6 separate regions of the Homo sapiens genome follow, and all the other regions are linked to region 5. Evidence: fine-mapped expression QTL. A gene starts in region 5. Each other region holds a variant in brackets. All regions are shown on one strand. Distances are between the middles of the regions. Region 1 holds the start of LOC124902866 (a long non-coding RNA gene). Region 2 has its middle 6.6 kb from the start of CD9. Region 3 overlaps VWF (von Willebrand factor). Region 4 overlaps VWF (von Willebrand factor). Region 5 holds the start of VWF (von Willebrand factor). Region 6 overlaps VWF (von Willebrand factor).

Region 1 (5,143 bases), 43 kb before region 5:
GTACATATGTCACTGTTAATGAACTAATATTATTAACTAAAGTGCACACTTTATTCAGCTTTCTTTTTTTTTTAACCTATTGCCCCCATTCTGTCCCAGGATCCCACCAGGATTCTATATTACATTTAGTCATCATGTCTCTGTAGGCTCCTCTTGGCTGTGACAGTTTCACAGACTTCCCTTGTTTTTGGTGATCTGGACTATTTTGAGAGGTGCTGGTCAGGATTTTGCAGAATGTCCTTTAACTGGGATGTGTCTCATGTTTTCCTCTTGAGTAGACTGGCGTTTGGGTTTTGGAGAGGGAGACCACAGAGGTAAGTGTCATTCTCATCCCATGATATCAAGGGCACTATCAACGTGACTTATGGCTGTTGGTGTTCACCTTGGTCACCTGTTTCTTTAGTGTAAAGCTATTCTTTTCTTTGCTCCCTTTCCATGATGTTCTGAAGAATCATTTTTTGAGCACCAAAAGAAGAAACTGGTGGCGGGGCGCAGTGGCTCACACCTGTAATCCCAGCACTTTGGGAGGCCGAGGCGGGCGGATCACCTGAGATCAGGCATTCGAGACCAACCTGGCCAACATGGTGAAACCCCATCTCTACTAAAAATACAAAAATTAGCCGGGCATGGTGGTGCATGCCTGAAATCCCAGCTACTCAGGAGGTTGAGGAGGGAGAATTGCTTGAACCTGGGGGGCGGAGGTTGCAGTCAGCCGAGATTGCACCACTGCCCTCCAGCCTGGGTGACAGTGAGACTCCATCTCAAAAAAAAAAAAAAAAAAAAAAAGAAGAAGAAGAAGAAGAAACTGGCAACTCTGGCAACTCTCCTAAGAGGGAGGAAGAGAGGAGAAAGGACAGGGCAGGGCGGTGACAAGTGTCCTGGAACGGAAAAAGAAAAAAGAAGAAAAAAATTGCACCTGTGTAGGAGGAGATGCTGGTGGCCCTTGGAGTGCCCATGTGAGAGAAGAGCCAGTTCCAGGATTCCAGTGAGAGCAGCCAGCTCAGCGTGGCTCAGCAGCGGGGGACAGCCGTCTAGGAATCCCTGCGGAGCACCCCAGAGAAGGAGCTTCACCTCGGGACCTGGGTCTCATTTTCAGGGACTTCATCTCCCTGAAAAGCAATGCTGCATCAGACACAGAGACGCCCCGACAGAACGGAAAACAATATGCACTGTTCAACATGAAACTCCCATTCATCTCACTGCTGCATGACTTTGCCTAAGAGTTCAGGATAAAGTAATGTTTGCAAATACATCCTGAAATTGCTTTTGTGGGTTAGCATCATTAGATTGCATTATGCTTTGGGATTAAAAGCGTTAACTTTGCCATGTAGCTATTTCAAATAGATCACAAGCTCTTTTTTTTTTTTTTTTGATGATCACCACTATACTAACGAGGATCAAATAGACCACAAGTTCTGCAACCCTGTTTAGATGTTTCTTCATTTCATAAAGTATAGGTACCAAGAATCTCAGTACCTCCTCCTCTCCCCCCAGACTTTCTCTTGTTATTCTGGGATCAAAGGGGCCTCATGTCCCCTCTGAGGGACCTTACCCCTATCAAGCAGGCTGGCAAGCGGGAGAACGGAGGCCTGAGAAGCTGCAACACAGCTACACTGAACTCCCCAGCCAAGCCATGTGCTTGCATCTGCCCGTCTACTCCAGAGTGTGAGCCAAACATCTGAGACTGTGAGAATTCGGAGAGCTGACCCCAGACGTTGGTTCCAGTGTTGGGAGGAACCTGGGAAAATCAAGGGATGCTTTGGTCCTGTCATTGTGACTGACAAGCAATTAGAGGTGAATATCTGTGAATATTTGGGGGTTTAGAATGTACCTGTTGAAATGAAATGCCCCTGGGATATGAAATAACTTTAGCTGTTGGCATCTAAGACAACAGAGGCAGCTGGACGTGGTGACTCACGCCTGTAATCCCAGCACTTTGGGAGGCCGAGGCGGGTGGATCACCTGAGATCACGAGTTTGAGACCAGCCTGACCAACATGGTGAAACCCCATCTCTACTAAATACAAAAAATTAGCCGGGCGTAGTGGCGCATGCCTGTAATTCCAGCTACTTGGGAGGCTGAGGCAGGAGAATTGCTTGAATCCGGGAGGCGGAGGTTACAGTGAGCCAAGATTGCACCATTGCACTCCAGCCTGGGCAACAAGAGTGAAACTCCATCTCCCCCCCCACCCCGCAAAAAAAGACAACAGAGGCGTTCAATCAGTCGGCCGCGGTGAGCAATGTCCCGTGAGAATGGGGCCCAAGACAGAAGTCTAGGAAAGGGTGTATGTGGGCGAGGTAGACACAGATAGGGGCTGTGGACGGAAGGACTCTAGGACCTGCTTGCAGTCTGTCATGAGTCTTTGGACTATTTATAGCTGGTGACCTCAGATGAGTCACCCCCATGATTCAGTTTCCCCATTTCTCTGAGATATGGAGACAGCAGCTGGTCAGGAAGGGACCCTTTCCCTCCTCTCCGCCTCTC[C/T]ACCGCCACCACTGCCGTCACCGGCACCCATGTTCTGCCCACACAGTAGCCCAGGATGCCAAGGGCTAAAGGCTTGACATAGACGACACCTAATGTAATCTCACAGCCCTGGGACACAGCTCTTGTTATTGCCTCCACTTTGCAGAAGGGAAAAGTGAGCCTTATAGAGGCTGAATAACATGCCTGATGTCTACACTGGGGATGGGTGGATGTGGGCTGGTGTTCGGGCCACCCTGACTCACACTTGGTTGGCCAGGGCTTCCACTGCTAAATCCATCTGGGTCAGGGGCTGGCAACATTTTCTTCATCAGGTAAATATTCTAGGCTTTGTGGGGCATATGATCTCTCTTCCTCTCACCCCAGATTTTCTCCTGTTACTCAACACTTTAAAAATGTAAAAACCATTCTTAGCTAGTGAGCTGCACATAGGAGTCTGCTGGCTGGATTTGGCCTGAAGGCCAGAGTTTAGTCACCTCTGATAACAGGAAAGCAAAAAATGCAAATTGCTGTGGGCTGTCATATCTCCCCAGATTTCAGAGGCGTTCTAAAACTCACTCAAAGAATCCTGGGCCCTGGAGGGTGGCAGGGCTACCTGTGCGGCCCAGGTGGATGTTAGTTTTACTGAGGACCTACTGGGGTGTGGGCACCACGGTGTCTCTCCCATGGCCACTATTCCTACGGGCAGTTACTGCCCCTCACACTTGTCCCTCTGTGTCCTACCCTCTGTGGGGGCTCACTGGGGGCCCAGCTTCTCCACCCTGTCACCATCCTGGCCTCACTTTCCTTTCTCCTGGGACTTCGGTTCTTGGTCAAGTGAGGCTGGACAGGCCCAGCTGTGGCCCCTGGCTGAGCTGCAGAGGAAGCTGAGAGGACCTGCTATCAGCTCCTTTTGGCCAGGCTGCCTCAGTGGCCAGCGTGGGGTGGGAGATGCTGAGGCAGAAATGGGGGAGAAGAGGTGGGAGCTCTGCAGCCGGAGGGAGGAGTTCCGTGGCCTGGGCAGGAAGCTGGGAAACCTCTGTTTCTTTCTTTCTTTGTTTTGTTTTTTTTTTTGAGACGGAGTCTCGCTCTATTGCCCAGGCTGGAGTGCAGTGGCACGATCTCAGCTCACTTCAAGCTCCGCCTCCCGAGTTCATGCCATTCTCCTGCCTCAGCCTCCCAAGTAGCTGGGACTACAGGCACCCGCCACCACGCCTGGCCAATTTTTTGTATTTTTTAGTAGAGACAGGGTTTCACTGTGTTAGCTGGGATGGTCTTGATTTCCTGACCTCGTGATCCACCTGCCTCGGCCTCCCAAAGTGCTGGGATTACAGGCGTGAGCCACCACGCTCGGCCACCTCTCTGTTTCTAAGGCTCCTCAGAGTTAAGGAGGTTTGTGAAAGGAGTAAACACAGGAATTCTGCTTGTGTGTGGGGCCTGCCTGTGCGTGTGTATCACATACAACCCATGCCTGTGTTCCTGTGGAGAGGGAGCATGGAAGGGGCCCGTGTTCTAGGCAATGCACAAAATAGTTAAACCAGGTCTGAAACTGGGATCAAGTCCCAACACCACCACTGACCAACCATGGGAACCAGGTCCAGGTCTTTAACCTCTTGGACACTCACTTTCCTCATCTGTAAAATGGAAATAGCAATATCTCAGCAGATTGCTGTAAAGCTTACAAAGTAACACGATTTATCGAATGCTTCCTACTGGGCAGGCACTATTCTAGGGGCTTTCTATATTCAGTTGATCCTCATCACTCATACATTCTGTATTTAAAGATTTGTCTACTCTGGCCGGGTGTGGTGGCTCATGCCTGTAATCCCAGAACTTTGGGAGGCCGAGGTGGGTGGATCACGAGGTCAGGAGATCAAGACTACCCTGGCTAACATGGTGAAACCCCGTCTCTACTAAAAATACAAAAAAAATTAGCCGGGCGTGTTGGCGGGCGCCTGTAGTCCCAGCTACTCGGGAGGCTGAGGCAGGAGAATGGTGTGAACATGGGAGGTGGAGCTTGCAGTGAGCCGAGATAGCACCGCTGCACTCCAGCCTGGGCAACTGAGCAAGACTCCATCTCAAAAAAATAAAAATAAAAAAATAAAAATTTGTCTACTCCATACAATTTACTTGTATTGCCAAAATCAATACTCACAGTGCTTGCATGGCCATCCATGAACACAGAGCAGAGAAAAATTTGGCAGGATGTGCACATTCCCAGCAGAGGGTGAACAAGGTGACAGTCTGCCTTCTTGTTTCAGCTCATACCACAAGCAAGTGTCCTTTTCAAGGTCTACTTGGTACCATGTGTTTTGCATTTTTCTGCTGCGTGTTGGTGATTCCACTGTTTAAAATGGTCCCAGCATCATGCTGAAGTGCTGTCCAGAGTTCCTAAGTGAGAGAAAGCTGTGATGTGTCATGTGGAGAAAATATGTCTAGTAGTTAAGCTTCGTGCAGGCATGAGTTATAGTGCTGTTGGCTATGAGTTCAATGTGAATTATTCAGCAATATATATTGAATAAGGTGTCGTTAGACAGAAACACACATAAGAAAAAGTTATGCATTGATTTGTTGATGAAAATGTGACCAGAGGCTCACAGGAACCTCCCCTTGTATCTCCCCTAGGAGCACTGGTTTGGCATTCACTAATTCAGTGTTTGCAGTGACTCCATAAAACACAGCC
Region 2 (5,143 bases), 69 kb before region 5:
AAAAAAACTTTCTTCCTCTTTCCCCACCAGCCGCCTTTTAAATATTGAAGCCCTCAAAATCATCTTTGCAGAAGGCACAGATCTGCCTCCTGGGCGCCCATCTGTAACCTTGGCAAAATAAACTTTCTAAATTGATTGAGACCTGTCTCAGATACTTTTTGGTTCACAGCATTTTGGATCAGGAGGTGTCTTTCATTCCTCCTGACATTCTGTGTCACAATAAACCCCTGGGCCAAAGTGCATTTGTTACAGACAGTTAGTGCTACAGGCAACCAGGAAGGTGAGCGATGGAAAAATTATGTTTTGCCTTAACCGGAAGAGGAAAATATGGGTAAGCCCCTGAGTCAGAAATCACATGGAAGCAGCCAGGCCTTCCAGGCTTTGTGGTGCTGGAGTGGGAAAGCTTTTCCTCCCTTCCCTCAAGGCGTCCTGTCTCTGGGAAAGAAACCCCAGCTCAGGCTCAGGGTCCACTTTGGCTCTTGTGCCCCCCCTGGTGGTAAGATTTGAACACGCAGAGGCCAGGTGACCTAATGAGCCGTCACACCCATGCCCCAGGTCCCTCCAGCTGTGGGCAATGGCTTTGTAAGGCAACAGGTAGGACCCTCGCTCTCACAGGCCACCAAGGCCCTTCCAGCCACCACACCAGTGGCCATCTTGATTCACCTCCTTCACTTCTAGAAGCTTCTCTCCTGTTCCTCTTTCTAAGCTCAAATACACCACCTTATGAAGCCTTCCTGGAGCACTCCAGTCTTTTTCTCCGTGGATTACCTTGAGTCTCGCATGTGTGATTCTCTGGTCATCATCATCTTCCTTTATGTGTCCACTTCTTGGTAGTGAGCTCCTCGAGGGTGCACTTGCATTTGATTAATTTCTGTGCTCTCCCTAGCTCCCGGTCCCTTCCTGGCCCAGAGCAGGCCCTCTGCAAACATCTGCAGAATGACGGCTGGGCGTGGGGCTTTCTCAGGCCCCTGCCCTTCTCTCTCAGACCTCTCCTGGAGCACTCATCCCCTTTTGTGCCTTCCACCATTTTCTCTGTTTAACTCATCTCTCTGTAAATGCAAGTCCTGATATCCAAGAGCCTGCAGATTTTTTTTTTTTGAGACCAAGTCTCGCTCTGTTGCCCAGGCTGGAGTGCAGTGGCTCAATCTCGGCTCACTACAACCTCCATCCCTGGGCTCAAGAGACTCTCTTGCCTCAGCCTCCCAAGCAGATTGAATTACAGGTGTGCGCTGCCATGCCCGGCTAATAATTTTTTTTTTTTTAGACGGAGTCTCGCTTTGTCACCCAGGCTGGAGTGCAGTGGCACGATCTTGGCTCACTGCAACCTCTGCCTCCCGGGTTCAAGTGATTCTTCTGCCTCAGCCTCCCAAGTAGCTGGGACTACAGGCGCACACCACCATGCCCAGCTAATTTTTGTATTTTTAGTAGAGACGGGGTTTCACCATATTGGCCAGGCTGGTCTTGAACTCCTGAATTCGTTATCTACCCACCTCAGCCTCCCAAAGTGCTGGGATTACAGGCGTAAGCCACCGTGTTTTTTATATTTTTTATATTTTTTATATTTTTAGTAGAGATGGGGTTTCCTCCTGTTGGTCAGGCTGGTCTTGAACTCCTGGCCCCAGGTGATCCGCCCACCTCAGCCTCCCAAAGTGCTGGGATTACAGGCGTGCGCCACCGTGCCTGGCCCGTTTCCACTTCTAACGGCCCTCCAAATAGGCCCACGTTCCAATCCCCAAAACTGTGAATGTGTTACTTTCCATGGCATAGCCTGGACCATCCCAGTGGGCCCAGTGGAATCCAAAGGGTTCTTATAAGAGACAGGTGGAAGTGTCAAAGCCAGGGAAGGAGATGTGACGACAGAAGCAGAGGTCGCAGTGATGCACAGCTGTGTGTTGGGGAACAAGGACAGCCTCTAGAAGCTGGAGAAGGCGAAGAAACGAATTCTCCCCTGCAGCTGCCAGAGGGATCCAACACAGCCCTGCCCACCCATTTTAGATTTCAGACCTCTAGAATTGTGAAATAGTAAATATGTGTTACTTTAAGCCACTAAATTTGTGGTTGTTACCGAAGCAATAGGAAATATAGTAATCTCAATGTAAACATCAAGATCAGAATTCATAATCTCCAAGGGCTTTCTAGGCTCGCAGCTGACTTTCTCCTCAGCCCTCCCTGTCTCTAATCAGTCAGCACCAACACCTCCCATCACCTGGGGCTCCTCCTTCCCCCAGCCTCACAGCTGCTTAGTGAATGTGATTCCTGTTTCTTAGCTGTTCTTACGTCATTGCTGGGAGGCACCAGGGCTAAGGCGGGTTGTAGTGATTGAGTGGCAGAGCACAGATCAGACCTCAGAGCTTCTGGTTTCAGTCCAGGGTTGGATCCTGATCTTTTGTTCCCCCTGATGCCCTGCCATCCGCAAGGGGGCTGCATCCTGGAAGCTCATCTGCAGCCCAAACGGCTGTTCTACCCTTGCCCTGCCTCGCTGCTGTTCACCTGCCCAGGATGGACACAACATTGGACCCAGAGAGTCTTGCTGCGTGCGTCCTTGGGGGTGGGCTGCCCTCCTCTCACCCATCACTTCTTTTCCTTGCATTAAGCACACACACACTCAACCTGGAAACTGCCTATGTCCAGTGTGGATTTTATGAAGGTTTCACGGATAGGTGGATGAGGGGTTCCCTCTCATATGCCAGAGAGAACCATTCTAAGAATCCCTCTGGATAGCTCTTCTCAAACGTCCAATCTGTGGCAGCCACCCCTATCATCTGCCCCCCAGCCCAGCCTCAGCCAGCCCCCTGCCCTGTGGATGTCCTCTGCATATGTCTGTGTGGAGCAATTTAGCTCTAAACTTGGCATTTTCCGTTTGTGTCCCCACCTCCCCTC[A/G]CCCTGCTCAGCAAAACAAATCATGGCTCTCAGGGTCTGTCCTCCTTAGTATATGGGGGTTGGGGGCAGGCGGGGAGCAATTCTAAACAAGCAATATTTAATATCATCCTTTCATCAGACTCCTGAAGCTCAGCTTTACTCTTTCCTGCTCAAAGATCTCCCAACTCCCCTTACCCCTGTTCTACTTCCAAACAATGCTCCCATAGCATTTACCTTCTCACAGAGTGGAATGTTTCCTTGGTATGTGCATTGCTATTTACCTGTCTCCTCCAGCTAGAATGCAAAATCCGCATGGCTGTTCTGTTCTCTATGTATCCCAAGGGCTTTGAACAGTGCCTGACATACAGTAGGTGCACAATATTTATTGAATGTATGGAAAGCCGATGTCTCAATTGTAAGATCATCATACAGGCCCTCTGCTCTCTCGCCTTAACCTCTGTTTGCAAATCTGTTCACTCTTTTGGAATACCACATGCATCCCCAGCTCTATGCCTGGGTCCCCACCTCTTCTTTCCGAAGCCCAAGCTCTTGGCACTTCCTCCTTTCTGCCCTTCAAGCAGCCTGCACCATCTCTGAGGCCAGCCCAGCCCCTGCCTTCCCCAGCACCCTCAGTCATCTTAGTCTGCTCTGATCCTCTTTCTCAGGACACTCCTGTAGCAACTTCTTTCTGAATCATCCACTAGACTCTTACAAGATTTGTCCTGGGTGATAATTTCAGGTTTCATGCATCTGTTTAAAAGAGTTGGCTGGGCGGCCGGGCGCGGTGGCTCACGCCTATCATCTCAGCACTGTGGGAGGCTGAGGCGGGCGGATCACGAGGTCAGGAGATCGAGATCATCCTGGCTAACACAGTGAAACCCTGTCTCTACTAAAAATACAAAAAATTAGCCAGGCGTGGTGGCGGGCGCCTGTAGTCCCAGCTACTAGGGAGGCTGAGGCAGGAGAATGGCGTGAACCCGGGAGGCAGAGCTTGCAGTGAGCTGAGATCACACCGCTGCACTCCAGCCTGGGCGACAGAGCGAGACTCCGTCTCAGAAAAAAAAAAAAAAAAAAGATTAGCTGAGCGTGGTGGCAGGTGCCTGTAATCCCAGCTACTCAGGAGGCTGAGGCAGGAGAATCGCCTGAACCCAGGAAGCGGAGGTTGCAGTGAGCTGAGACTGCGCCACTGCACTCCAGCCTGGTGAGAGTGAGACTCCGTCTAAAAAAAAAAAGATTAGCTGGGCATGATGGCGGGTGTGGGGAAAAGAGAGATCAGATTGTTACTGTGTCTATGTAGAAAGAAGTAGACATAGGAGACTCCATTTTGTTCTGTACTAAGAAAAATTCTTCTGCCTTGAGATGCTGTTAATCTCAATGTCAAACTCAGGGTTAAATGGATTAAGGGCGGTGCAAGATGTGCTTTGTTAAACAGATGCTTGAAGGCAGCATGCTCCTTAAGAGTCATCACCACTCCCTAATCTCAAGTACCCAGGGACACAAACACTGCGGAAGGCCACAGGGACCTCTGCCTAGGAAAGCCAGGTGTTGTCCAAGGTTTCTCCCCATGTGACAGTCTGAAATATGGCCTCGTGGGAAGGGAAAGACCTGACTGTCCCCCAGCCCGACACCCGTAAAGGGTCTGTGCTGAGGAGGATTAGTAAAAGAGGAAGGAACACCTTTCTGCAGTTGAGACAAGAGGAAGGTGGGCAATGGAATGTCTCGGTGTAAAACCCGATTGTATATTCCATCTACTGAGATAGGGGAAAACCGCCTTAGGGCTGGAGGTGGGACATGCGGGCAGCAATACTGCTCTGTAAGGCATTGAGATGTTTATGTGTATGCATATCTAAAGCACAGCACTTAATTCTTTACCTTGTTCATGATGCAGAGACCTTTGTTCACGTGTTTATCTGCTGACCTTCTCTCCACTATTATCCTATGACCCTGACACATCCCCCTCTCCGAGAAACACCCAAGAATGATCAATAAATACTAAGGGAACTCAGAGGCTGGCGGGATCCTCCGTATGCTGAACGCTGGTCCCCTTGAGAGGTGACAGCGTGCTGGCAGTCCTCACAGCCCTCGCTCACTCTGGGGGCCTCCTCTGCCTGGGCTCCCACTTTGGCGGCATTTGAGGAGCCCTTCAGCCCGCCGCTGCACTATGGGAGCCCCTTTCTGGGCTGGCCAAGGCCGGAGCCGGCTCCTTCAGCTTGCAGGGAGGTGTGGAGGGAGAGGCGCGAGCGGGAACCGGGGCTGTGAGCGGCGCTTGCGGGCCAGCTGGAGT
Region 3 (5,000 bases), 59 kb after region 5:
TCCATTAGGTGAGAGGTTCCGTTTTGTTTTTTTTCATGAGGCAGGATCTTTATTCACATAGAAATGGATCTGCTTTAACTTCTGGATTTTTTTTTTTTTTTTTTTTTGAGACAGAGTTTCACTCAGTCGCCCAGGCTGGGGTGCAGTGGCGTGATCTCAGCTCACTGCAACCTCTGCCTCCTGGGTTCAAGCAATTCTCCTGCCTCAGCCTCCCGAGTAGCTGGGATTACAGGCACCTGCCACCACACCCGGCTAATTTTTTGTATTTTTAGTAGAGACGGGGTTTCACCATGTTGGCCAGGCTGGTCTCGAACTCCTGACCTTGGGTGCTCCGCCTGTCTCAGCCTCCCAAAGTGCTGGGATTATAGGCATGAGCCATGACGGCCCGGCCTGGATGCTCTTTTTTTTTTAAATGCAGTTTTAGGAATCACCTGCCTTTCATTCATTCCCCAAACTTCCAGTGCCCATCTCCATCTAGTGGTGGGCCCGCTGTTCGTCAGGAGCTGCCTGTTGCTGACTGATGGGGAATATCCTAGTGTCCCATCCTGGGTGGAGGATGGGTGAGCGTGTTCGCATGGCCCATAGTTCTGGCTGACGTTCTAGCTCCCGTGGCTAACGGCTACCTGGCAGCTCACCCACCCATTTTCCTGTGTTTGTGGCTCTGTTGCTCAGTTGTACCGAGGAGATAAGCTCATATAATATTTAGACTTCTGATTTGCGAGAAACTTGGGAACACAAGTCAGTGAAGGTCAGAGAAGGAAATCAGATGAGACGATTAGATGCTGGCCCTGAAAGTTTTCCTTTCGAATATTTGCACATTTCTCGTTGACCCTTCTTTTCCTGGGTATTGTTAAAGAAGACAGAAGTCCATTTTCTTGCTTAGATAAGAGTGCTCTGAGAAAACACAGAAAGGCAGGGGGAAGAATTCCCACCCATTTTTACTGCCCTGGGGTCAAGACATTTGACACAAATGACCATATTACTGTGTTTGTAGAATGATGATAATTTCTGAAAAATGGTCAGTTCAAAAAGGCTTTCCTGAGACCTCACTGGACTTGAAATTACAGCACATCCAGAATGGGCTGGGACGATCCTGGCCCCTATCTTGTGGCCTGCTCTGTCCTCCACGAACAGTCACTCCTCACTCCCGCTCTTCTAGAGGGGGCAGCGGAGAAGGTGGGCCATGCTGATGGGAGTGATCTGGGGCCTTTCCACTTTCTCCTAATTTCCTCTGGGCTGGATGTGCCCTCCTGACCCATGCTGTCCTGGAAGGGATCCACTGTCCTGGGGACCAGGCAGAGGGATGTGTACATCCCTGAGGCACCTCATCCTTAATCCTGCCTTCATACACATCTCAAAGGCAGGCCCACACCTGGGTCCAGTACTGCACAGTCTAGCCTGGCCCCTGGCTGGGCCTGTCAGGGCACATGCGAGCATGAAGTGCCAGACAGTGAGGGCCTGTGGAGCTTGTCCTTGACAAGCTAGAATCTCTCTGTGCCTTTTGGGGACCCCTTGGCTGTGTGACAGGGCTAGCATTAGCCCCTGGAGCTGGGCCCACATAGGATGGTCTGTAGGACCCTCTTACATTTGTCTTTCCAACGTTGGTCTAGCATCTGTTCCCCAAAGGGGGAACTTCAGGTGGAGGCTGAGGTAGCGCTGTAGACAGCCAAGCTTCCGCTGTTTGGAGGGTCTCAGGGGAAGCCCTGTGCACTCTATGTGTCCTCATCTTTGCTTTGATCCTTAGAGAAAGGAACTCACACATGCACCGTAGAGTGACTGGGTGGGAAAAGTCTTCCTCCTTCACCAAATGGCAATGGTGTCTCTCTCTATATATATTTCTTTTTCTGTAGAGTAGATAGCAAAGATGAGAGCAGGTGGAGGAAATATATAGGGCAGGTTGGGAAGGGATCCAGATGCCCTTTTCAGCTTTGATGGGTCCATGTTTGGCCCTGAAGATGGGATTGCCTCAAGCCAGGCAGGTTGATGGAGAATCACTGGAGACATTGGCAGAGGCCTCCCCCTGCCAGGACACCTTCCAGGATGTGTGATCTCAGTTTGGAGGTGCATTGGGCCACAAGTATGGGGCCTAGGCTGGGGCGTGGGGGAGATGGTGTGGGAATTAGGGTGGGGACAAGCTGAGGGCTTTGGGTTGCAGGGTGATGAAGGGGAGTCCTAGTCCCCACCCACAGATGTGTCAGCCTGGGCTGGGAAGCTGGCGCTGCCGAGGTCAGCACTGCCTGGGTGGTGGTGAGATCATGGGCAGATGGCCTCCTGGTTCCCCATTGGCCCTGGCTGGAGTCACAGCGTGGGCTTGCCCCTCTGAGGACGCAGAAAGCAATGGCCTTAGAGTTGCCCCTCTGCTGGTGAGGAGGATGGAGTCCCCATTTTCACTGCTGAGCTCCAAGACTGTCCTGCCTCACCCTCCCACCTCATCCTGCCTCTGGGCTGCCTACTCTGCCCCCTGGCCTCCAGGGACTCTCCAGGGGTGACACTGTTTCCCAGAGCCTCTCCACACTCAGGTTCAGAGAACCCTGTGCTATTGGGCAGCCTCCCCCTGGCCAGGCATTCCGCTGGCACCAGTCTGAGGCTGGTGTGGCCCTGATGCCAGCAGGTAGCGTGGGACATGGCAGTGAGCTGTGAGGGAGGAGGGGAGGCTGCAGGGAGCCTGGAAGCAGGAGCGTGGGTTCCTGCGTGGTTCCACCACTGACTGAGTGTGGCTCTGTCACCTTCCTTAGTTGCCCCATCTGTAAAATGAGGCCTTGACCTGAATGACCCAGCTCTGACATCTTGCAGTTTTAGGAGCAGGAACCGAATTTTCTCGTAGAACTTGTTTTTAGACTGGTTTGGGCAAAGGACGTCCATGCAGTTTTGGGGAAGGGCACCCTGCTTGCATATGCATTCCACCTTGGCCACCCCAGGGGAAGTGCCCTCACCTCCCATTCTTCTCCCTTCCTCTGTGTCTCTCCAGGGGAGTGCCTTGTCACAGGTCAATC[A/C]CACTTCAAGAGCTTTGACAACAGATACTTCACCTTCAGTGGGATCTGCCAGTACCTGCTGGCCCGGGATTGCCAGGACCACTCCTTCTCCATTGTCATTGAGACTGTCCAGGTGAGCTTTGCCAGCCCGGCTGCTGGTCGGGTGGTAGCCCAAGGTGCTGCATAGCTGCTAGGCTGAATGGGCAGTCCCTGGAAGGCGTGGGGCATTGCTTTCTGTGCATGAGGGAGGTCTCTTCCAGACTTCAGTTAGCTCCTCATTCATCCAGAAACCCAGCCCATCCCCTCTCTCCCTAGATGCTGGCGGAAGGCATCCTGCCCTGACAATAATGCCTCCTCAGGGCTGGCTCAGCTCCCCACCCAGTGGACGCATCCTGCTTGGGTCTAGCCTGTTGCCCCCATAACTAACCCTCTGATGTTTGGAGCTGGGGATGGCTGGGGTGGGGGCAAAGAGGGCTGGTCTTCTCTTCTGAACTCTGTGGTACATGTGTGGCTTCCTTTCTGTAGGGATGGAAGCAAAGATGAGGACGAAGAGAATGCACAGGGCTTTCCTTGAGGATCAAAGTCTTTGATTCTCTTTGGAACAGTAGGTCCAAGGAACACGATGAAGCAGAGGCCCATGGTTCTTTATAAGAGACTGGGCCAGGCTGGGAGAAGGCGTGTGCAAGGATGCACTTAGCAAGCCTTCTTGCTGCACAACTCTAGGGGGCCCCATTCACATGGAGTATTCTGGGAGAATGGAGTTGTAGGTTATGAGAAGGCCAGAGGCTCTCGGGTTGAGGCCTTTCTCTGATTAAGAGGGTCCTGGGCTGGGGAGCTGGATAGGCAGGGGGTGCAGCAAAGTCACCCTGTGTTCCCTCTTGGCAGTGTGCTGATGACCGCGACGCTGTGTGCACCCGCTCCGTCACCGTCCGGCTGCCTGGCCTGCACAACAGCCTTGTGAAACTGAAGCATGGGGCAGGAGTTGCCATGGATGGCCAGGACGTCCAGCTCCCCCTCCTGAAAGGTATGCTTCGTCCTGCTCCATCAGGCCTGGGGCTGGCACAGCCCATCCCTTAGCACCCTCCTTCTCAACCCTGGCCACTGTCCTTAAGGACCTGCATGCCTCTTCCATGGGAATGTGATGGAGAGTTATTTTTGGAGGGCAGGGTGGGGTGCTTGGCATGCATCCCTCCAAGAAAGGAAGGCTTCCTGGAGGAGGAAGACTAGAGAAGGAAGCCTATAGATGAAGAGGTTGCTCTAGACCTGGGACAGAGTGTAGATGGGAAAAGGGAACCGAGAGGATTTTTATTTGGCTTGAACCAAAGGGGCGAGTTGAGTCTTGGGCAGGTGGTTCTGGTTTGCTCTGGGGTGGGACAGGGGCAGAGGCTGATGCTGAGAGATCGGGGGTGGCTGGTGATGTCACACCAGAGGATGCCACTTGGGGCGAGGCCAGGTGACCCTCTGGCCTGTCTAGAGGTAGCAAAAAACCTACCTGTCCAGTATCTTCACCTGGGTTGCACTGTGCCGGTCAAAGCAAACCTGCTTTTGCATGGTAAAGCTCCCAAACTTCACACTCAAAGTGGCTCTCAGACTCTTCCTTCTTCTCCACAACTGCTGGCCACTTTGTCGCCCATTATCCTAGCATTGCACACAGCGGATGAACTTGGGCTAGTGGGTACCCAGCACGTCCATGGGTGTTATGCTGTGTGTCTCCTTATAAGATATGTTTGTTCCCCCAGGGCAAGGGGTGTGCTCCTATCTGTCGCCACCTTCCCACAGAAGCAACAATTGCTGTATTCAGTGTCGTACACAGCATCGCTCAGACATGAGGTGGTGTGCAGTGGCAGAGTGTCCCAGGCACATTCAGATGTCGTGGTGTCAATGCTAAAGAGATCCCCCTCTGCTCCAGGGCACCTGCCTACAGCCCAGGATGCAGGAGCCTCTGCCTCCCTCCTGTGGCAGTAGGGGGAATGGCAGGTCATAGCGGGGGGTGCAGAGGCTTCTTCCTGGGGGACCCTATTTGCGCTC
Region 4 (5,000 bases), 41 kb after region 5:
CCTTTCTTTACAGCAGACTGGCTCACCTGAGTGCAGGATGGGAGAAGGGCAGGGAGCCAATGGTTGTGGTGAAACAGTGGTGACCTTGGCCACTGTTCCCTTGGGGGTCTAGCCTCATGGCAGAGGTCAGTGGCTACCATGGGGTTTTGCAGATTTCCCTTGAACTTGGCCTTTAAAAATTTTTTTTTAAAATTTTACTTTAAGTTCTGGGATACATGTGCTGAACGTGCAGGTTTGTTACATAGGCATACATGTGCCATGGTAGTTTGCTGCACCTATCAACCCATCATTTAGGTTTTAAGCCCCACATGCATTAGGTGTTTGTCCTAATGCTCGCTCTCTCCTTGCCCCCGCCCCCCGCGCCCCCCCTCCCCGCCCACAGGCCGTGGTGTGTGATGTTCCCCTCCCTGTGTCCATGTGTTCTCATTGGAACTTGGCTTTTTATGTTGCTCATTTGACAAGCCCTTGAGGAGAGTTGGATAAGGACCTAGCACCCAAGCATTCAATTCAAAGGCCTCCCTAACATAATGTTCCCAAAATCCTTTAACGAACTATTTCTCAGGTGGGTTCCTTTCCCTTTTCCTTTTCCCTGGTGAGCAACAGAATGGACAAGAATCTGATGGTGCCCATAAGTGCATATTCACTGAGATGTTTCATATGGCTTGCGTGATACAACGTAGACTAAGGGACAAGACACGTAAGAGAAATTAAACCATGAAAGACTGTCTGGGGTTAGTAAATGACAAATCGCCAAGTGAATGGTAAGTGATAGCGCAGCTTAGGGGAATTAGCTCCTGTCACAGAGCTGATGCTTTTTTCTTGCTGGGAGCAGGATGGGTGAGTGATTCAGAAAGGGCTGCTTTCCATCCCCAGAGCTTGGTAGGCCCTAGACTGGGAACCAGGGAATGGTGCCCCGTCCTTGTCCATCCAGCCAGCATGCCCTAATCCCTAGAAGCTGCTCAGATGCCTCCAGGAGCCCCAAGGAGAAGGTGAGGAGGGTCCCTTAGAGAGGTCCATGGCCAAGTCTCCTACTTCTCATGAGCACTGGACCCCAGCTATCTTAGAGAGAGGAATGTCAAGCTCTGCAGAAACCATCCATTTGGTGGAAATCTATCAACAGGTTTCACCAGGTCCTTGTGAGTCAGAATCTTGGAATGCGGGTGGGAATCTTGGGCCGGCCAGAAGTTATAAATAGAATCAGCTACCCTCCCCCACCCATCATTACAGCTGACCAATGAGAAAGTATTCCCTGCTGCAGGGTGAATTCTTGAACCCACTACTTTGGAGCAGCTCAGACTCCAGGCGCCTCCATACCTACCAGGGGCTGCTGCAGGGCACCCATCCCAGAGCTAGAAAGATCAGGGCTTGTGGAACAATATTGCACTCTATGTATTAGACTTTCCTTTCTTTGTTCACTCAGTCCTAGGAATGTCCCCCTCCCTTCTCCTTTGTCAGCTGCTTGGGAGCAAACACAATAGCTAAGCTTCAGATCTCTGGCTCTGCTTTCTCTCCTCCTGCTGCCTGCCACTGAGATGTGCTTGCTTTCCCTCCTCCTCCCCTGCACCCGCCTGATGTCTCCAGGGAAGATGCCTGGTCTTCTTTAATGAACTGGAAATGTGATTAAGATGGGCCACAATTGGGCCTGCACACCAACCCAGGCATGGTGAGGTCATGGCTGGATGGGCTGGGGCAGCTGCTCTCCCGCAGCTCCTGGCACGGCCGACAGGAGTTGAAAGAAGACAGGAGTAGCTGATGCAGGGCCTTGGAGCCAGGGAGATGCTGGAAGTGTGCAAATTAGCTGGCCCTTGTTTTGCATCCCTGCCAGAATGGTTTAGCAGAGAACTGAGGAGCCAGTACCGATTGCAGGCAAATGAGAATAGTTATAAGCATTTGATTTCCTGGTGTCATCTCATTTGATTTCATTTTGCAGAAACCATCTAGGGTAGGTCCAAGTACTGCTGTCTGTGTCAGTTAGGAGTAGGTTCAGCTGTGAGTGACAGGACTTATACAATCTAAGTTTATTTATCTCTCATGTAAAGAAGTTTGGGGTAGGATGTCCAGGGCCATGCAAGATCTCATGGTGTTGGGATCCAGGGTCCCTCTGTCTTATTTCTCTGTTGTCCCCAGTGGGGGCTTCTACCTTGTGCACCAAAACGCCGGCTCAAGCTTCAGGCATCACAACTACATTCCCGCAGTAGAAAGAGAAGGGACTAAGGAAGAAGCAGTCCCTTATTTTGAGGACACTTGGTGGAGGTTGCACAAGACCCCTCTGCTTATAGCCTACTGGGTATTGCTTAGTCATATGGCTGCCCCCAGCTGCAAGGGAGGCTGAGAAATGGAATCTTATTCCTAGCAGCTCTGTGCCCCGTGGGGGTGGGAAATTGAAAACTGAGGATTCTGTGACTAAGAAGGGGAGAATAGCTCCTGGACAACTTTCAACCTCTTCCACTTTTCCCCTCTTTCACAGGTAGGGAAATGAGGATGCAGAGAGGCAAGATAATTTTCCTTTTCTTTTTTGTTTTTTGCGACGGAGTCTCGCTCTCTTGCCCAGGCTGGAGTGCCGTGGTGCAATCTTGGCTCACTGCAACCTCTGCCTCCCAGGCTCAAGTGATCCTCCCACCTCAGCCTCTCTAGTAGCTGAGACTACAGGCACGTGCCACCACGCCTGGCTAATTTTGGATATTTTTGTAGAGATAAGGTTTTGCCATATTGCTGGTCTCAAACTCCTGGACTCA[A/T]GTGATCTGCCCACTTTGGCCTCCAAAAGTGCTGGGATCAGGCCGGTTGCGGTGGCTCACGCCTGTAATCCCAGTACTTTGGGAGGCCGAGGTGGGTGGATCATGAGGTCAGAAGTTTGAGACTACCCTTCCAACATGGCAAAACCCCATCTCTACTAAAAATACAAGAGTGCTGGGATTACAGGTGTGAGCCACTGCACTTGGCCAAGATCATTTTCTTAAAGTCACACGCTTTGAAAGTGATGGGTTGCGAGAGGCAGAGGTTGCATTGAGCTGAGATCACGCCATTGCACTCCAGCCTGGGCAACAAGAGCGAGACTTCATCTAAAAAAAGAAAGTGATGGGTTGAGATTCTAGCCCAACCATGCTTCTAAAACCTGAGCTACAGCCACTGTATGACCCTGTCTTCTAATCTGATTGCTAGGAAACAGGAGTGGGAGGGCAGGATGGAAAACTGTAATTTGTGGTTTGGAATGGACTCAGGCACTCAGGGTTTGCACCCCATCACTAGTGTTAAAAGAAAAACCTGAGACAAATTAAATTTAACAGGGTTTACTTGAGCAAAGAATGATGCATGAACCAGGCAGCCCCCGAATCAGAACAGGCTCAGAGAGACTCTGGCCTGCCTCATGGTCAAAGAAGATTTATGGACAGAAAAAGACAAGTGACTTACAGAAACTGGAAGTGAGGTAGAGAAACAGTTGGATTGGCTACAGCGCAACATTTGCCTTATTAGAACGTAGTTTGAACAGTGGGCTGCCCCAAGAGGAGGTTACAGTGTGTTTACATCTCCAGTTAGGTTACAGTTCATTATGTAGGGAGAAACCTTTAGGCCTAACTTAAAATATGTAAGGAGGCAGCTTTCGGCTAAACTTAAAATTTAACGATTGTATAGCAGTTCTCCAACTGTTTAATCGCAGGGCCCCTGTATACTCTTAAAAAATAATGAAGGACTTTAAAGAGATTTTGTTTATGTGGGTCATAACTCTTGATACTTACCATATTAGATATTAAAACAAATTTAAAACATTTTTTGATTCATTTTAAAATAACAAGCTCATCATATTTAATGTAAAGAACATATTTTTAGGCCAGGCGCGGTGGCTCACGCCTGCAATCCCAGCACTTTGGGAGGCCTAGGCGGGCAGATCATGAGGTCAGGAGTTCGAGACCAGCCTGACCAACATGGTGGAACCCAGTCTCTACTAAAAATACAAAAATTAGCCGGGCGTGGTGGTGTGCACCTGTAATATCAGCTACTCAGGAGGCTGAGGCAAGAGAATTGCTTGAACCCTAGAGGCAGAGGTTGCAGTGAGCCGAGATTGTGCCACTGCACTCCAGCCTGGGCGACAGAGCGAGACTGCGTTTCAAAAAAAAAAACACCATATTTTTAAATAAAAAGAACGATAAATTCCAAGCCAAAAAATAATTTAGGGGAAAAATGACACTGTTTTACAGTTTTGCAAATCTCCTTGCTGTCTGGCTTCAGATACATCATCTGGACTCTCATATCTGCGTCTGCATTTAAATCTGTTGGGATATCTCATGTCTCATAGCCTCGGAAAACTGCACTGCACTCTGGTGAAAGAGTGAGAGAAAAAATTGCAAATAGCATCTTAGTATTATTATAAAAACAGTTTTGACCTCGTGCACTGCTGAAAGGATCTTGGGAGTCCTAGGCGATCCCTGGACCTCACCTTAAGAACCACTGACTTAGGCCAGGTGCCGTGGCTCACTCCTGTAATCCCAGAGCTTTGGGAGGCAAAGGCGGGTGGATCACGAGGTCAGGAGATCGAGGCCATCCTGGCCAACATGGTGAAACTCCGTCTGTACTAAAAATACAAAAATTAGCTGGGCATGGTTGCGCGTACCTGTAATCCCAGCTACTTGGGAGGCTGAGGCAGGAGAATCCCTTGAACCAGGAAGTCGGAGGTTGCAGTGAGCTGAGATCGTGCCACTATACTCCAGCCTGGTGACAGAGCGAGACTCTGTCTCAAAACAAAACAAAACAAAACAAAAAACACCACTGGCCTAGTAAATTCTTTACCCACTCCATGCTTCAGTTTCTAAATCTGAAAGGCTGTCTGTATCAGCCTTTGTCTGAGGAGAGCTGTGTTCTTTGGAGGTGTCTTCAGGCCTCTGAAGGGCCCATTTGTGGCATGGGTGATGAGATGGTCTCTGAAAGTACTTTAGGTGGGCTAGGAGAGAGGTCAGCTGTGGAGAAGGAGGTGAGGTTTGCCTCAGCCTTTCCTGAACGCAGGAGGA
Region 5 (5,116 bases):
TATTGGCCAGGATGGTCTTGATCTGTTGACCTTGTGATCCACCCACCGTGAGCCACCGTGCCCTGCCTTGAAAAAAGTTTATTCTTTGTAAAGACAGGGTCTTGCTGTGTTGCCCAGGCTGGTCTTGAACTCCTGGTCTCAAGCGATTATCCCATCTCAGCCTCCCAAAGTGCCAGGATTATAGACATGAACCACCGTGCCTAGCCTCTATTATAATTTTAAACACTCATTTTTTTCTTTTTATCTTTCTCTGATGATTTTATTATCTGAAATTCTTAGGGATTTAATTCTTGCTCATGGTAGATTGTTTTCTCAAGTGTTGAAAAATTTGTGATTTTGAATTCATCGTCAAGAGAGCTTTATTTGCATGAGTGCAAAGGATGAAAATTCTAGACTGGGCGTGGTGGCTCACGCCTGTAATCCCAGCACTTTGGGAGACCGAGGTGGGCAGATCACGAGGTCAGGAGTTTGAGACCAGCCTGGCTAACATAGTGGAACCCCATCTCTACTAAAAATACAAAAAATTAGCTGGGTGTAGTGGTGTGTGCATGTAATCCCAGCTACTTGGGAGGCTGAGGCAGGAGAATTGCTTGAAGCCGGGAGGCAGAGGTTGCAGTGAGCCATGATTGCATCACTGCACTCCAGCCCAGCGGACAGTGCGAGACTCCATCTCAAAAAAAAAAAAAGAAAGAAAAGAATATTCTAAAAAAAGACTTAATTCCCCCCGCCACCCCACCCCAAAACAAGTGGAGACAGGCAAACTTCCTTATCTTCTAGGTTGGGGGATGGATTTTTTTCCTGGTCCACTGTTTGGAAGATGTTTCCCTTCAAACTTTCAGCTTTTGCAGGGATCTCCGTTCTAGTTCTCCCTCTGGGTCAGGCCCGTAGCTGCACTGCCCATTCTTGTAATGTGCGGCCTCCAGTCTGGAGGGTTCCCAGACTGGCCTACGCTAGGCCACCCATGGGCCTACCCTGCCTCATGCTCATTTAGGCTCCTCTTCCTCATTGACCCTTTAAGATATTCCTTACTTTCCTCCCAGATCAACTGTGGATTTAAAGAACATTTGTTGTATTTAGCACAGCATTTAAAGATATTTTGTAATGAAAGGGTTTTCAGATTAGTTATTTAGTTTTTTTAAATAAGAGCTGGAAGTGGAAATCCCGATGGCCTTTTCTTTTCTTTTCTTTTTTTTCTTGAGACGGAGTCTTGCTCTGTCACCCAGGCTGGAGTGCAGTGGCTCGATCTCAGCTCACTGCAAGCTCCGCCTCCCGGGTTCACGCCATTCTCCTGCCTCAGCCTCCCGAGTAGCTGGGACTACAGGCGCCCGCCACCACGCCTGGCTAATTTTTTGTGTTTTTAGTAGAGACGGGGTTTCACTATGTTAGCCAGGATGGTCTTGATCCCTTGACCTCGTGATCCGCCCACCTCGGCCTCCCAAAGTGCTGGGATTACAGGCGTGAACCACCGTGCCCGGCCCCCCAATGGCCTTTTCTACTGTCTCATGCTGATTCTGCCTCTGGTGCCATTTTTCTTCCTTGGGAGTGTGCATCTTCCTCTCCTGGGGCGGTAAAGGGAGTAGCAGAGTGCGAGGTATGTGGGAAGGGAGGAGGTTGGAACCTAGTGGTTTCTCAAAGTCTTAGGGCAGGAGGTATCATGGAGAAGCAGTGAGGAGGTCTTCCATACCCAGACATGCCTCAGGGTGCTTGTCTCAGTGCCTGGAATCCCAGCACGAGAGTCATCTTCCCCCCACCGCTGCCCATTGCATCAGTTACTTATTTTAGTAGGAATTAGTTTAGCAGATGGTGTTGAGAATTAGGCTTTTGGGAATGGGAGGCTGGGAAGAAGAATTGTGTGTGTGTGTGTGTGTGTGTGTGTGTGTGTGTGTGTGTAAGATCAGGGTACCAGAAGTGGGTGGAAATGTCCTTGAGAATTAGAATTATTAGAATGTAGCAACAGTAGAAGTATTAGACTCAAACCATCACTCCCCACCTTCACCATTTTACAAAGGCTTAGGCTTGTGGCCAAGACCTTCATCTTTAGCCGATCCATTCAACCCTGGCCAGGATCCAAATGGACTGTTTTTGTCAGGGCCAGGACCGGATCCTTCATACCTGGGGTGCATAGGAAGTGTTAGTACTCCCCTTCCTCCAAACACAGCAGCAAAATTGGCTCAGGTTGAGGTGTTTTTCTCAACTTCCCTGGAGTCCAGCCCTGGAAGCTGGATCAGGAAGCTGTGTTGTTCTACTGTGATTCCCCCTGGCCTGTATCAGCTTGCCCTGAAACAACCAGCATTCCTGGTTATCCCACACAGGTGGGGCACTCTAGGAAGACCAGGGATCAAGTGTGGGGGTGTAGGGATAGGGGGTGTTTGGGGAGGGCAAGGCAGTTAATTAAGGCAGCTGCCAGGAGGTCTCCCTCCAAACTCTACAAAGCTTTATCAGCTTGGAGGTACTTCTAATACCATTTCCTTTCATTGTTTCCTTTTGGTAATTAAAAGGAGGCCAATCCCCTGTTGTGGCAGCTCACAGCTATTGTGGTGGGAAAGGGAGGGTGGTTGGTGGATGTCACAGCTTGGGCTTTATCTCCCCCAGCAGTGGGGACTCCACAGCCCCTGGGCTACATAACAGCAAGACAGTCCGGAGCTGTAGCAGACCTGATTGAGCCTTTGCAGCAGCTGAGAGCATGGCCTAGGGTGGGCGGCACCATTGTCCAGCAGCTGAGTTTCCCAGGGACCTTGGAGATAGCCGCAGCCCTCATTTGCAGGGGAAGGTATGGCCTTTGGAAGGAGAGCTGGCTCAGTTGTGGGAGGAAGATGCAGGACTGACTGATCCCTGCTCCTGGGGAGCTGGAGTTCTCTGTCGCTGGACTAGAAGGGCTTTGTTTGGAGGGGCAATTCAATTCAGCCAGGGATGATCCTAATACTCCCTCCTCCACTTGCCTCTGAGGGTCCTGGGGCTGCTTTTCTTCATGCAGTGGGTTTTACTGTTTGATAGTACTTCACTCAAATGAGTTGGAATGAAGTTTGCCCTCACCTCTGAGAACCTGGGAGCAGCTGAATGTACCTGCGTGTTAGGACTGGGAGGGGACACCTGCTTGGAGACCGAGACCTGGCAGTATCTGACATCTCAGTGTTCCTTCCACAGATGTATCACAGATTGGCTTGATTTCACCTTTGGCTGGATGGGACCTTAGGTAGGAAGGGAGTCACCCCCAGTGAATCTCAGGCAGCAGATTCTGCACTTCATTTAACAACTTTTCCCGAGGAGAGGGGCTACAGCAGGGGCTCTAAGTGACTTGGGGTACGCTCTGCCAGCCAGGATGAATTGTCCCTCTCTTGGGGGTCACACAGTGGGGAAGTCTGCCTGCATCCAGGGCCGCTGGACTCCTGTCCATTTTTTCAGATGAACTCAGCAAACATTTGCTGGGCATCTCCTGGGTGCTAAGCATCTTGCCAGGTGCTGGGGTTGGAGGCAAGGGAGACAGCCTTTGCTCTTGTGAAGGCACTTGTGGTACAGAGTCAGGGGCCAACAAGCAAACCGTCAAGTTGGTGGTTCCTGAGCATTCTCTATGTCTGGGCTGCTGTGGTGGGCACACAAGTGTAAGACGGTTCCTACTCGCCAGTTTGGATGCAGAGGCAGGAAGGAATGAGGTGTGTGTTAGCTCCCAGCTGCTTCAGGAGGCAGGGATGTGAGGCCCAGCGGGCCTGGAGGGAAGGCAGCGTTTTCCTCCTGTCTTGGGCCTGGGACTGCTGTCTGTGGAAAGGTGCCCACAGGTCCCAGCTCACAGCGATTGTTACCCTTGGGCCTGGCACTGGCCAGGGGTTTTTTCGGGGGCCAGAAGTCCATGTTCAAAGGGGAAAAGGGGGTCACGAGGATCAATCTTTTCTCCTGCTTTAAAGAAATGTTTTTGCTACTGCATGCCCTGATAGTCGCCACACCAGCAGCCGCCTACCTGGGCAGCAATGACCAGCTCACGTCTCTTGCTTCTTTGCAGATGATTCCTGCCAGATTTGCCGGGGTGCTGCTTGCTCTGGCCCTCATTTTGCCAGGTAGGTACAAAAGGGCCTCCATTTCTCATTCCTGCCCCAGGGCCATCTGGAGTGACACCTTTCCGGGAATCAGCAGGTGTGTCTGGAGCTCACCTGTGTGCCCAGCCCTAACTTAGGCTGTTGGTTGCCTCCTGTGAAGGTTCTGCGGAGTTCCCACCCTTGACTTGTATTCCAGAGACCAGGTGCCTGCAAATGCCATCTCCTGTTGGGGAATTAAGAAGCATAAAGGTGGCACAGAACTGTCCTATATTATGGGGGCACAGGATGAGGAGGAAGGAATCCAAGACTTGGATGGATTATTAGTTTTCGATAAGATTGTGGAGGTCACCTTGTTGAACCTCCCATGGTACAATGAAGAGACTGAGGGTCAGAGAGGAGAAATGACTGCTCCAAAGTCTCCTAGAGCCAAAATCAGAGGTCAGTCTTCCTGGGTTCCAGGCCAACACCCTTTCCACTGCACTGCATCATACTGCTGCCCTTCCCTTGCTAAGATTCTGGGTCTGCAAATGGCGGGAGGGGACTTTTGACCTTGGGCGCTTTCCACTTAGATCTCTCAGGTCAGCAGCATCCAGCTACTGCCCACAGGTGAGTCTGGGAAAAAAAATACACATTTGTCACACTCTCTGCATCTTCCTACTAGGTGGGTCTTTTGCCGGGGAACCCAGAACACTTAGAGATTTACTGCTGTATTTCCCCACCTGCCGACACACACACACCCATAGTCAGTGAAGGAGTTAGCCTGTGACGCCGGAGGAGTTCACACTTCAGAGAGTCTATGTGTCAGGCACACAGTCTGATCTGTTTAAAATTTAACATGCCCAAGACATGCTAGTAGATTTATGTACAAAGATGCTCACTGCAATCTATCTATAATATTAAAACATGGAAAAATGCTAGAAACCTAACAATAGAGGGCTATACTATAGACATTCAGATGCAAAATATAATGCAGCCACTAAAAACCGCATATTGGAAGTATATACACTAGCACGACAAATTGTTTACAATCTATTGAGAAATAAACAGAGGTTATAGGTAGTTTGCACAAGTTGGTCACCAATTTATAA
Region 6 (5,000 bases), 69 kb after region 5:
AAAGTCCCTTTATTGGGCGCCCGCCACAGGCCAACCCCCGGGAAAGAAAAAAAAAAAAAAAGTCTACCGAGGCGGGAGGATCGCTTGAGGGCAGGAGTTCGAGACCAGTCTGGGCAACGTAGGGAGCCCCCATTTCTATTAAAATAATAATAATAATAATAATAATAATAATAATAATAATAATAATAAATTTGCCGGGCGTGGTGGGGCGCGCCTGTAATCCCAACTACTTGGGAGCTACGTGGGACGGTTGCATGAACCCAGGAAGGCAAGGCCGCAGTGAGCCAAGATCGCATTTCTGCACTCCAGCCCGGGCGACAGAGCAAGACCGTGTCTCTCCAAAAAAAAAAAAAAAAAATTCCATAGTCCCCGTCCTTCGACCTTCCCAGTCTACTGCAGCAGCAGCTTACAAACTCAGCGTTAGATGATTGTAAGATAAATGGACTTGGGGGTGGGGGTGGCATTTGCAGATTTCTCTGCGTGACCTTGCAGCCCTCTATTAGCAGCACTGGGCTATTTCCAGGGGAGTGTTGACCGGGAGGGCGTGGCCCCCACTCCTCCCCACCACATCCCAGGCTCGCTCCTCTCGCCCCACAGCCAGGTTCTCCGAGGAGGCGTGCGCGGTCCTGACGTCCCCCACATTCGAGGCCTGCCATCGTGCCGTCAGCCCGCTGCCCTACCTGCGGAACTGCCGCTACGACGTGTGCTCCTGCTCGGACGGCCGCGAGTGCCTGTGCGGCGCCCTGGCCAGCTATGCCGCGGCCTGCGCGGGGAGAGGCGTGCGCGTCGCGTGGCGCGAGCCAGGCCGCTGTGGTGCGTGCCCTCCCTGCCCGCAGCCCTCCGGGCCGCCCCCCAAATCCGTCCACGTGTGCTTTTCGAAGCCCTTTCTCTGCGTTGTTTCCTGTGGAAAGAGGGCGTAGGGCATTGTGACAAACACGGGTGGGGAGGACGGTTCATTTGCACCCACTTTTCCCTTCCACCTCCCAGCAGGACAGGCGGTGGGGACCGGCTGATGATTCGGGCCTGTTCCAGGAAGACAGGTTGGCTCCTCCTACCTGGAGGCCTAGAACGTGGGGGTCCCTGCAAAGCTTGGGTTTCCCGTGGCCGCTGCCACCTAGTGTTCGTTCAGCACAGAAGGTCAGGCTGTGGAGCGAATGGGTCCCAGATCCCACTGGGTCTCCGCCTCCCTTAAGAGTCCGATGAAGGCAAGGGAAATTCACATACAAACCCTTTGCTTGTAACTCCAGGCAAACCACCGATGGACAAAACCTCTGGCGTTGTATAAAGTTACCTAAAGGTGAATTACATCACTGTCCCCAGTTGGCTTTAGATTCTCACTCTGCACTGTTGGATTCCTGGCACCAGAGGTGGTATCTATTGTGCTCACTTTTTTGTTTTTGTTATTGCTCTGGGGACATTTGCTGCATGCCCAGTGTGGTCGGGCAACAGTGATGATGTGGAACTCCAAACTTACTGTTAGAGTCACAGATGGAAATGGCCGCCCTACTAGATACCTATCCTACTAAGTGAAAGGATGAGTAGATTCAGGGCAGGGAAAACCAAGGAAGGCTTTCTGGAGGACGTGTACTTGGCTAGGGTTTTAAAAAGCTGCTTTCTTGGCAGAGAAGACTTGTTTCCAATGGTAGAATCATAGTAGGCATAGAAGTGACGAGTATATTCTGTTAAGAATAAGGCATAGTGGATATTCTGTTTTTTAGGGTAAAGTAGATGTGTTTAGAAATTAAAATGTAGGTGTAGTCCCAGCTACTTGGGAGGTTGAGGCAAGAGGATTGCTTGAGTCTAGGAATTTAAGGCTGCAGTGAGTTATGATCGCACCACTGCACTCTGACCTGGCCAACAGAGAAAGACCCTGTGTGTGTGTGTGTGTGTGTGTGTGTGTGTGTGTGTATACATATATATATATATAAAGTAGATGGTCCTGTTGGAAGAGGAGTTATGAGAAACAGTGAAAGGAATTAGCATCTATATTTCAGGAGCAGTGTAGGCATGGGGACCCTAGAAGTGCTACTATTTTGGGTCCAATGAGCCAACTCATGTTTTGAGTTGTAGAAATGTCATATGAAAGAGGAGCAGAGACAACAGTAAGGACGAAAGGGACGAGCACATAATGCAGCCGTTGTGCCCTCCCCATTCCTCCAGCTCTGGGATGTCTTGGGGAGCCACAGGCTAGGGGCTGGGACAACTGGGTCTGGGTCCTTACTGGCAACTTTCCCGTGAGGTACCAGTTATGGGACCTTGAACCCTTCACGTAACCCCTTTGCACTTCAGTTTCTTCCTTAGCATTTGCTATTTAGAAATTGGGGAAAGTAATGAGGAGTGAATGAGATGCTGCTTGTGAATATTCTTTGCTTGTCCACCAGTGTTAGAAATGATGCATTATCAGTATGTGGCAGCATCCGCAGGATTTCTTAATTTAGGACATTCTCCTGGAATGCTAAGGGCCCACTGAAATATTCTTTAATCTGTCATGAACAGCCATTCTTAACCTCCACTGAACAGAACAGGGGAAATGGGCTGATGCTTCAGTAGTGGGGATAAGATTCAGTTAAAGAATGTCTTGACTCCTGAGGCATTACGATAGGGTAGAAAGGGTGGTAGGAAGGAGCTTTCCCTGGAGACTGTTAAGGACAAGAGGGGTCTGTCTCTGTGGGTTTATGTGACAAGAGACTGGGCTGA[C/T]CAGATGGCCTTGGGCTGTCCCTTTGTACCCAAGGCAGTTGGGTAAGTCTCCTGGGTTCTTGCCCCAATCTTTTCTTGACTTGGAGAAGAGCTCAGGCTCAGCTGTCCCCTCTACCCACTTCCACTTTCTCTTCCAGAGAAATGAACAGAGCTCCCTAAACCAGTGAATCTATTCGTAAGAAGAGGTCACATCAATTGGAGACACTCAGGGAGCACAGACTTACCATGTAGCTACTTTGTGGGATGGTGTGAGGAGATTGATGAGAAGCACACACATTTTTTTTCCTCTTGCAAATTGGTTGTGCTCCCTTTGGGAAGACAGGACCACAGGCTTTCTGAAGGCAAGGACCAGGGCTGGCCATCTCTGCCTCCCTGGGCCTAGCATAGCCCCTGGCATGCAGTGGATACACAAGAAGTGTCTGCTAAACTGAGATGTGCATTGTTTCTTTGGGGAAGAAGGCTAAAGGAGAAATTTAATAAGGCTCCAAGCCAGCCCTAGAGATAGCCTATCAGAACAAAGAAAGTTCTCAAGTCTAGCTGCTTTTTAATGGGTAAAATGTGCCCTTGTCATTGTAGGCTCAGGTGGTTGAAAGACATCTCCATCTTTATTGTCTAACACATCCTGTCTTAACCTACACTCCCTCAGTATTCATCCAATAATCCAACCTTTCCATTCTTGCAGAGAAAAATCAATGTCTAATAGGATTAAAGAGGCCCTCCCTTCCCAGCTACCTTCAAACACCAAGTTCAGGGTGGTTGTAGGAGCGGGAGGCTGCAGGGTCTCTCCAGAGGCTCCCCACTCCATTGTTCAGGCTCACGGCCAAGGCTTACTTTTATAACATCTGTGAAATGCCCTGCCAGTAGGTTTCTGCTGGAGCAATGGATTTGAACAGAGAGGGGAAGGATTGTGATGGTCTCAGAAGAAGCATGCCCAGGGTGAGGTTCTCATTTCTTGGGCAGCAGCTGGTCTGCACAGGGAAGGCATTTTGAAAGGGCAGAATGCTCCCCACACCTTCCCTGTCCTCTACCCTGCCCATAAGGAATTTTGTCACCAGAATGCCAGAGCTTCTGAGGCCTAGGCCTTTCTCTGGAACACTCCTTCCTTCTTGGGACCGCTGAGCTGGGGCTGTTTCCTTAGCAATAAGAATAATAATTATTATCAGTGAACATTATTAGCAGTGAACATTCTCCACATGCCAGACATTCTTCTAAATGTGTTAGCTCATTCAACCTTCACAAAGACTGGGTGGATACTGTTATTCCATCCAGTGAGGATACTGCCCAAGATCACACAGCCAGCTAGTGGTGGACCTGGGCGTGAACCCAGGTATTTGGGATACAGAGCCCGTTCCCTTAGCTGCGTTGCCACTTTGCTACACTTCCTTCTGGCTTGTGTCTCTTGCAGTATTTTTCTGTGGGAGGCTAGGGAGGGTGAGGGCTGTGGGCAGATGGGTGCAGCCCATTTCGCTGTGGTAGGCATGAGTGTCCCTCCTCTTTGGGACCAGCATGTCCTCAAAGGGACTGTTTTCTTTCTAGAGAGTAAGGGTTATGAGCATGAGCTTTAGGGCTGCAGAGAGCTGAGTTCAAATCCTTCCTCTGCTTCTTCCTGTGAGGTATACCCCTAACAAGTCACTCAGCCTAAGTTTCTTGAAAGGGGGTGATGAGAGCTAACTCGGCATGAGGCATAGAGCCCACGTAAGAGCAAGGCATTCAGTAGGTGCTCCATAAATGGTACTCATTGTTGTCACGGGGTATGCCCTTGCCCGTCATTCCCAGTACTTTTTAATATTCACAGCTTCAAAACCTGCCAGGATTTCTACTACATCCTAGGCTTTGAGAATTCAGAGATGACTAATGCACATTCCCTGTGGTTGAGGAAAGGAGAAAATGTGTGCCCCCATAATTATAATACATATCTGCATGCTGAAAAATACACATTTGCTCATAGTGGGAAAGGAAGTTGATGACCATACAGATATAATTGGGGGTCACTTGGGGAAAACTGGGTAAAGGGTACATGGGATCTTTCTGCATTACTTCTTGTAATTGCAAGCAAGTCTACAATTATCTCAATAAAAATTTTAATTAAATAATTGGGGGTCACAGCTACAAGGGGTGGCAAGTCCTAGAACCACAGTCCTTGCTGTCCAACATTCCCGCTGAGGCCTTACTTCTCCTCTCTCTTCTAGAGCTGAACTGCCCGAAAGGCCAGGTGTACCTGCAGTGCGGGACCCCCTGCAACCTGACCTGCCGCTCTCTCTCTTACCCGGATGAGGAATGCAATGAGGCCTGCCTGGAGGGCT

The links. PIP is the estimated chance that this variant, and not a neighbour inherited with it, causes the effect.
Region 1: its variant is fine-mapped to the expression of VWF in whole blood (TOPMed, PIP above 0.99).
Region 2: its variant is fine-mapped to the expression of VWF in whole blood (TOPMed, PIP above 0.99).
Region 3: its variant is fine-mapped to the expression of VWF in whole blood (TOPMed, PIP 0.98).
Region 4: its variant is fine-mapped to the expression of VWF in whole blood (TOPMed, PIP above 0.99).
Region 6: its variant is fine-mapped to the expression of VWF in whole blood (TOPMed, PIP above 0.99).

What each region holds. Positions count from the first base shown.
Region 1 is chr12:6,165,237-6,170,379 of GRCh38, reverse strand. It overlaps LOC124902866 (a long non-coding RNA gene), which reads left to right and starts at 769. Exons shown (of 2, transcript XR_007063189.1): 1 at 769-2,232. It overlaps LOC105369623 (a long non-coding RNA gene), which reads left to right. Exons shown (of 3, transcript XR_931588.3): 3 at 450-546. RefSeq lists enhancers at 2,263-2,557, 2,290-2,569. The variant C/T (reference allele first, on the strand shown) is at 2,485.
Region 2 is chr12:6,191,198-6,196,340 of GRCh38, reverse strand. No RefSeq gene overlaps it. Among named protein-coding and RNA genes, the nearest start is that of CD9, 6.6 kb to the left of the region's middle. RefSeq lists a silencer at 2,196-2,245 and an enhancer at 4,573-5,143. The variant A/G (reference allele first, on the strand shown) is at 2,881.
Region 3 is chr12:6,063,242-6,068,241 of GRCh38, reverse strand. It overlaps VWF (von Willebrand factor), which reads left to right. Exons shown (of 52, transcript NM_000552.5): 11 at 2,969-3,105; 12 at 3,858-3,996. Among named protein-coding and RNA genes, the nearest start is that of SNORA120, 26 kb to the right of the region's middle. The variant A/C (reference allele first, on the strand shown) is at 2,994.
Region 4 is chr12:6,081,089-6,086,088 of GRCh38, reverse strand. All of the region lies in intron 6 of VWF (von Willebrand factor), which reads left to right. Among named protein-coding and RNA genes, the nearest start is that of VWF, 41 kb to the left of the region's middle. RefSeq lists enhancers at 1,756-2,500, 2,501-3,247. The variant A/T (reference allele first, on the strand shown) is at 2,736.
Region 5 is chr12:6,122,075-6,127,190 of GRCh38, reverse strand. It overlaps VWF (von Willebrand factor), which reads left to right and starts at 2,521. Exons shown (of 52, transcript NM_000552.5): 1 at 2,521-2,770; 2 at 3,995-4,049. The coding sequence starts at 3,995.
Region 6 is chr12:6,052,670-6,057,669 of GRCh38, reverse strand. It overlaps VWF (von Willebrand factor), which reads left to right. Exons shown (of 52, transcript NM_000552.5): 15 at 598-813; 16 at 4,887-5,000. Among named protein-coding and RNA genes, the nearest start is that of SNORA120, 15 kb to the right of the region's middle. The variant C/T (reference allele first, on the strand shown) is at 2,698.